2 linked regions of the Homo sapiens genome follow. The protein of the gene in region 1 purifies or fractionates together with the protein of each later gene. This does not show direct contact. Each region holds a gene or a part of one and is shown on either strand. Other genes may lie near its edges.

Region 1 (5,784 bases):
CAACACTTAAAACTTCTGTAAAATGAAAGATACCACAGACAAGTTAAAAGAAGACCATGAAGTAGATGTATGTATTTGTGACATGTATAGAATTATCTACAAGTCAAGAAGAAGAAAAAAAGACAACCAGAGAAGAAAATTGGCAAAGGATAAGAAATACAAATAAACATGAAAATGTGCTTAACTTTATTTGTAATCAAGAAAAGTAAAATTAAAACAACAGAGAAAAGCTATTTTCTAACTATTAAATCGGCAAAATTAAAAAGCATTAGGCCAAGGATAGTGAAAATAGATACTCATACAGCTGGTGGTGTGTAAATTGGAATAACTAATTTGTAAAAGCAATTGTCTATCTCTGGTAAACATGAAGATATCCTGTGCATCCTATGAAATGCCAATTCCATCTTGAGGAATCTACCTTAGAAAAACTCTTGCACATATATACAAGGAAACACGTACAAGAATGTTCAACACAGCCCAGTTTATTATAGTGAAAACATGGAAACAACCTAAATGTTTATCAGTAGGGAAATATTTACCATTGGGAACTATCAAAAAGGTAAGTAGGTTCCATATTGTTTTATAAAAGATCTCCAGACATTGTTGATTAAAAAAAAAAAAGATGCAGAAAGGATATATCAGACACTTAAAAACAACTTAAAACATGAAAACAGAACAAGCTCACAAACTATATTTCTGTATTTTTGAAAATATGTACCCCAAACTGATAATAGTTGTTATCTATGGGAACTGGAATTAGTCTTTAGCTTTATCTGTATTGTTTGAACCTTTAAAAATTATTGTGTGTTTAACTAGAAATAAACATTTTTAAAAATTTAAAGATCATACCAGTACTTTGATTTACCAATTTAAGCTTCTTAATACTATAAAGTATTAACAGGGAAGAGCCAGCAATTTCTAGATAATACAACGTAAGATGGGGCACTTTGTAGGTTTTTGGATTTTTCTTGTTTTGCTTTCATTTTTGGTTTTGAGAGGTAGTGGGGTGAATGGAAGAATACGGGCTTTGGAGTCAAATCTAAGTTTGAATCCAAGCTCTGCCATTTATTTAGACTTTGGGCAGGTTTCTTAACCTCTCTAGTTTTTAAAAAAATTGCTATTACCTACTTCGTTGGGTTGTATAAGAATTACATGTGCTAGATTTCCTCATTTCCCCATTCCCTTTGGTTAAGGGAAATTGGTCTAGTGTGGTCTAAGATCAAAGATGGTCTCGTATGGATGACAAAATGTTTCACAAGAACACACTATATCCTTGGACCAGGATATACCAGTAAAGATGGAGGATGTAAATAATAAATTTTAGAGGTCTATTAACTGTTTAAACCATTAAGCTATCTATTTGTACCTCACAAGATCAAATACTAGATTATGTTAGTGATTTATAAATGATATTGAACTTGAAACTTCTAAGCAGTTTACATGACAGGTTGTTGATTAACAGGTTTACTTTTTTTTTTAAATCTCAGAGAACATTTTAATTTAGTTCAGCAAACATTTATTTGTGCCATCCAGCATCTCAATCTCAAGAGGCCTCATAGACCAAAATATGTCTCAAAAGGAAGAAAGGAAAACTCTATGTATTTATCAATTTATTTATCAAACTCTGGCAAGGGGGGAAAAAGTCAGGTTTAAAGTTGAGTATATGTATATACTCTGCTTTTCACTTGTACTGCTATTGCCTATGTGTGCATCTGTTAATATCATATATAGCAATTCATATGAAGATTTTTTCCAGTGAGACTTAGTTATTCTATTATTGGGACTCTGTATTAAATAATAATTTTTAAAAAAGAGTGCTCTAACTAATGTTAAGGTGGAAATTCTAGACCCCTCAAACAAAAATTTCCAAATAGGACCCCTTATCATTTAATTGTGAAATAAACAACTAATGCTTTTATGGTATTTATGCTTGGGAAGAGAATAAAATAAATAGTTTTGGATTTTCCCCATATAAATTAGGGCCTGCTGAGTAATTAGCAGTTAATAAGTGAATGCTTCCTACAAGTTTAAAGGTCATACCTGAAATGGGTATATGATGATGTATATTTTTATAGTTATAGATTTTATATAGCCCAAGAATCCTTGAAGATAGTCTAAACATCTTGGTTTGATGAGCAGAACTTTCAATAAGGGGGTAAGGGGCTAATATTGTTTGAGCACTTACTATGTGCCAAGCACTATTCTAAGATGATTACATAGATTATTTTATTTAATCTTCACCACAGTCTTCTGTGGTAGGTACTAGTATTGCCCAATTTTATAGAAAAGGGCAGAGAGATAAGGTAACTTATATGAAGTTACACAGTCAGTAAATGACAGAGCTAGAAATCATATCCAGGTTCAGTTGGCTCAAGAACCCATATTCTTAACCATTGCAGTAAAAATTGTTATGCTGTTTTAATCTGTAGAGTCAGCATGTAGCAATAATAATATAATCATTAACATGTTACATTTTGCATATATTGAATGCTTTCTAAAGAAGTAGTTTATTATCAGACATATTCTTAGAATCATACCCATTTTATAGCAGGATTGACAGTGTTATAAAGAGATTACGTGATCAACATGGGGTGAGTCAACAGAACCAAGAAGTTTCTGATCCACAATTGCCTTCACTTGCTAGGTTCAAGTAAGGATCATATAGTGTTTACTTACATTTGCCTTAGATTTTTCAGTATAGCATGATGAAATTCTAAATGCTTATCTCAGACAGTGATGCTATCTGAGCAAGACATGGACAATTGGGCATTAGTGTGAATTTTAGGACACTAGAGCGTAGGTACAGGTTAGAAAACTTAATCCTCATCTTGTGGAAGTCATGGCAAAGCCAAAGAGGAAAAGCCTGTCTTAAATGCTTTTCCTTTTCCAAGGGGCAGCTAAGGTGCCCAGATATCTTTGCCCTCCAGGGATGCAGGTGTGCTGTTTTTTATTCTTTAATCATTCACATAAATTAAAGCCTATTCCTTTGCATTAAAAAAAATGTAAAATGACACTCTCCGTGTTTTATTGCCAGGCAAGAGCTTTGAACTTCTGTCTCATTGAAGTTTGATAAACTAAGGATTTTCCCGTGTTGGGTGGTACCCTTAACCACAGAGGGAGCATTAGACTGATAAGAGCTGCAGGTGAAGGAAACCACCAGGGCACGGCAATTAGGGAGAGCTTCGCACTTGGCTGTTGGCTGGTGTAAAACTCTCTGCAGGGAGGAACTTTTCTTCTTAGCTTCTTCCCTTCACCCACACGTAAAAAGAACACCAGGGCTTTCTATTTCTACTTTGCGAACTAGGAATGGATGGGATGGTTCTTTTCAAGAAACTTTCAAATTTAGGGACAAGTTCTAACTTCACACAAATGCTGATTGGTATGAAGGTGGGGGGACAGGACAGACAGACATACACACACATAAATTCACGTGGACCCAAATGGACCATATCTCTCAGGTGATTTTACTATCAACATACATTCCTGCCTTTGTGCACTGTGTAAAATAAAGATAATTTTTACTTCCATAACTGATTATAAAGTGTTAATGGTGAGGCAACGTGTTAAGAGAATGGGTTCTTGTATCAGGTAAACCTTGGTTCAAATCTTGGCTTCTCTTCCCACTAGCTGTGTAAATTAATTTTGTAAGTCTCAGTTCTCCCACTTGTAAAAATAGAAGTCTAAGAATAACTATTATAGGATTGTATTTGGAAGAAATAGAATAAAGCATGTGAAACAATTAGTACAGTACTATATCTGTCACATTGTTGTTTAATAAATTGTGCAAGTACTCAAAAATGGTAGCTGTTATTATTTGTAATATGAAACTAAATATCTGATTGGTAGATTAATGTTAAACATGCATGGTCCAATATATTTCTTTCTTTCCTTTTTTATATTTTTGGTATAAAGTCTATTTTCTTGAAAATTCCTGCTTTTTTTTTCTAGAAGGACAAAAGTACTTTGATTTTTACTGCTCTGAAAATATTTATCCCGTAAAAAGCTTTCACATTAACTTTGAGTCCCTGGAGCTAGGGAGGAGAAGCAGCAGGATTTGCTACTAAGTAGAGCTCTTTCATTTCTACCATCAAAAAGAAAAAAAAAAAAAATCCTGTGCTAGCCTTAGGTAGAGCTAAGTCATAAAAGGCCATATAGCCTAAGGAAGGACTCTTTTTATAAGATCAGGATAAACCGATAGAAGAAAGGAAGGAGAACACAGAGGTGAAAATGCAGCTGATTTTAATGTTTCCCTGGCCATTTTCCCTCCCAATTTAATATACACCTAATTATAATTATTATATTTTGAAAACAATACCAGAAATTGGCAGGTATTATCTCACAGCTTCACTCTTAGTTTTGGCCGTTTCTTAAAGAAACAGTTTTCTAGTTGGATGAACTGTTGAGTTGAGGCACTGATTTTGTTTTCACCTCTTTTTGGGTGGGGTTGGGGGTGGGCAGTCAGGGTTTGCAGTGGTTTATAGTTGTTAGTTTTGGGAAGCACTCATTTAGATAGAATGAGTCACAGAATGTAAACAGGTCATCCATCTGGACTTTAGGCTGCTGGGAACGTGGTGAAACCTTAGGTCACCGCGATCATTATGGTCAAATGAAGACTTTTGGGCTCAGGTTGGCAGGTAAACTTACTTGTTTTATGAGCTTCACTAGACTACCAGGACTTCAGAAATAGTTTTTTGAAATACCAATATTTATAAATTTTAGGTAATTCCATCATATTTTCCTGAGGAATGAAACTGTGAAAGAAGTAAATGTCTACTTTGGCAGCAACTTCATAGAATTGCTTTTTGGAAGGATATTCATCACTTTGGGGTTTTTTGTTCTCACTGCTCCAGATGAAAGTATTTTTCTGAATTTTTTATGGTAAATGTGGACACTGAATTGGAAGCTTCTATGTAAAGTTTGTCAGGAAACCTCTGTCATACCTAAGGATAAAATTCAGAGAAAGGGAAGAAGTATTTGAGTACCTGACATCTAAGAAGTTCTGGCCTATGTTGTTTACTGAGTAAACTCCCAATAATGCTTTGAGACAGGCTTTTAAGGAAACATGTTATCAATCACGTACTATGTACCAAACACATAGTGGTGTTTTACCTGTATTATCTTATTTATTTCTCATAACCCTATAATGTAAGTACCATTATTATCCCCATTTTACCATGAAGAATAGGCTTGAAGAATAATTTGTTTATGGTCACATAACTAGGAAGTGGCAGAGCTGAGAATGGAGCTCTCAACTCTCTGTAATCCAAAGCCCAGGTTCTTAACCAGTGATTCTTAAACTTAAGAGTACATAAGAAGCATCAGGAGTACTTGTTAAAAATTACTGGGCTGTAGTAAAAAATGTAAGGTCACTAAATCTGGGACAGTGCCAGACTATAAATCTGCGTTTTAAACGGCATCCCAGGGGATTCAGATCAAGAAATTGATTGACCATATTTTGAGAAACATAGTTAAATTATATTGCTTTTCACACTTGATAAAGAAGAAAACAGGTGTAGACTAAGTAACTATCCAAGATTAAGCTACCAAGACAGAGCCATGATTCAAACTCAGGTCTGTCTCACTCTAATACTCATACTTTTTATTATACGCCCATGATTAACTCACACATTTCCAAGTCACAACAAATGCAGAAAACATGACATCTAATAAACCAAGCCAGATAGATTTCATGGTCTTGTTATTTACCAAAGTTAATAACTTATATATACACCAGTACGAAAATTTTCATGGTCCTTAAACCTTTCCAGTGACTTTTTTTTTTTT
Region 2 (2,246 bases), on another chromosome or scaffold:
CAAAAACTTTAAGTGCAAAGAAGCTTTATTTTTTGAATTGGTGTTTGGGTTCAGTAAGAACAGATTCTAATACCTTAGATTTGTTTTAAATAAATGATTATGAAAATAATTTTAAAATATGAAAATTTTAGGCCAGGTATAGGCAATGGCTCACGCCTGTAATCCCAGCACTTTGGGAGGCTGAGGCGGGTGGATCACTGGAGACTAGAAGCTCCAGACCAGCCTGGCCAATGTGGTGAAACCCTGCGTCTCTACTAAAAATACAAAAATTAGCCAGTCCTGGTGGCAAGCACCGATAATCCCAGCTACTCCAGTGGCTGAGGCAGGGGAATCACTTGAACCCAAGAGGTGGGGGTTGCAGTGAGCCAAGATGGTGCCACTGCACTCCAATCTGGGTGACAGAATGAGATTCTGTCTCAAAATATAAAAATAAAAAAATAAAAAACTTTAATCTAGATATTTAATAAAAGCGTGAGTGTATTTATACAGCCAATATCCCAAATCATTTTAATGAAAAGCATAACAAACTTGTGCACGTGTGTATACATATACGCATATGCTTTTATAGGTAGTATATGTATGTGTATGTGTATATATGTATCCATGTATCTATATGCACATATGTAGAGGCATATGACTGTTATATTTAACATATAAAATAGCTGTGTGTGATTTTTAAGACAATCTCAAAAGAGGTATGTTTCCATGGCATTGCCACCTGCAATTTGAGGTTTTTCTTTTTATTTGTGTTCCCTTAAACCAAGCAAATAGAAGAGCCATTTGGACTATTAATGTGTCCTTTAGAATAACTGTTACTATAGCTTACCGATATGATATGACAAGCCCCAACCGCCACAGTAAACCTCGGGTTCATTATAAATAAACCACAAGTCACAATTTGAGTGGGTCATCCAAGTTAATCCCATAGTAAGGATGGAGCGTGAGAAAATACTGAATTTAAAAGGATGCACACAGGGGAGAACAATAGAATAATTGAAACAAGACTTGGTTTTTAAAATCTGAAAGCCAGGATTTTAAACTGATGGGGTGAAAGGAATCAGAACTGGATTGCTTCTCTATCTCACCTTTCATTGGAGGTCAAGTATGCAGCATTCCCACATGACTTTTTTTGTTTGTTTTTTCCACTTCTCTAGGGTTCTTTTCCCCAGTCCTTTGTAAACATAGATTTTAACTACTGTTTTCTTCAAAATCGTATAACTTCTCAATGAAAAACTGTACTTGAAGACAAATCCCACGAAATAGTGTGATTTGAAGAAATGAGTGTACTTTTAACCTAAAGAGAAATGCAATGAAATATTTTCTTGAAAAAAAACTTGTAATATTAGTATTAATTTTACAAAAAAAGAAAACTCTGAATAATTCCAAAAACTATTTGTAGAATGGATGAAGCAATGCCTGAGATTATAGATGGGCTTGGGGACAATGGAGTTTTATAAAAGGCCCTCCTGTAAAGTAATTTACTAAATTACTTTTAGTACAAAGTATCTGTTGATGTTAAAAAATTATTGCTTTGGAAGCTTATCTAAATTATTTTTTTTTCATTTCAGAGATAAAAATCATATAGACCAATTGAAGCATGAACGTGGATTGTATTTAAGACATAAACAAAGACATTGACAGCAATTCATGGTTCAAGTATTAAGCAGTTCATTCTACCAAGCTGTCACAGGTTTTCAGAGAATTATCTCAAGTAAAACAAATGAAATTTAATTACAAACAATAAGAACAAGTTTTGGCAGCCATGATAATAGGTCATATGTTGTGTTTGGTTCAATTTTTTTTCCGTAAATGTCTGCACTGAGGATTTCTTTTTGGTTTGCCTTTTATGTAAATTTTTTACGTAGCTATTTTTATACACTGTAAGCTTTGTTCTGGGAGTTGCTGTTAATCTGATGTATAATGTAATGTTTTTATTTCAATTGTTTATATGGATAATCTGAGCAGGTACATTTCTGATTCTGATTGCTATCAGCAATGCCCCAAACTTTCTCATAAGCACCTAAAACCCAAAGGTGGCAGCTTGTGAAGATTGGGGACACTCATATTGCCCTAATTAAAAACTGTGATTTTTATCACAAGGGAGGGGAGGCCGAGAGTCAGACTGATAGACACCATAGGAGCCGACTCTTTGATATGCCACCAGCGAACTCTCAGAAATAAATCACAGATGCATATAGACACACATACATAATGGTACTCCCAAACTGACAATTTTACCTATTCTG

The links. The genes of interacting proteins can lie anywhere in the genome.
Region 2: the proteins of CSTPP1 (region 1) and ALCAM purify together in Homo sapiens (co-immunoprecipitation; one large-scale study listed by IntAct). This does not show direct contact.

The regions. Positions count from the first base shown.
Region 1 is NC_000011.10:46,980,652-46,986,435, forward strand, and holds part of CSTPP1 (centriolar satellite-associated tubulin polyglutamylase complex regulator 1), read left to right. Parts: intron 1-5,784. UniProt on the Homo sapiens protein: Regulator of the tubulin polyglutamylase complex (TPGC) that controls cytoskeletal organization, nuclear shape, and cilium disassembly by balancing microtubule and actin assembly.
Region 2 is NC_000003.12:105,572,909-105,575,154, forward strand, and holds part of ALCAM (CD166 antigen isoform 1 precursor), read left to right. Parts: intron 1-1,568; 3' UTR 1,569-2,246. UniProt on the Homo sapiens protein: Cell adhesion molecule that mediates both heterotypic cell-cell contacts via its interaction with CD6, as well as homotypic cell-cell contacts. Promotes T-cell activation and proliferation via its interactions with CD6.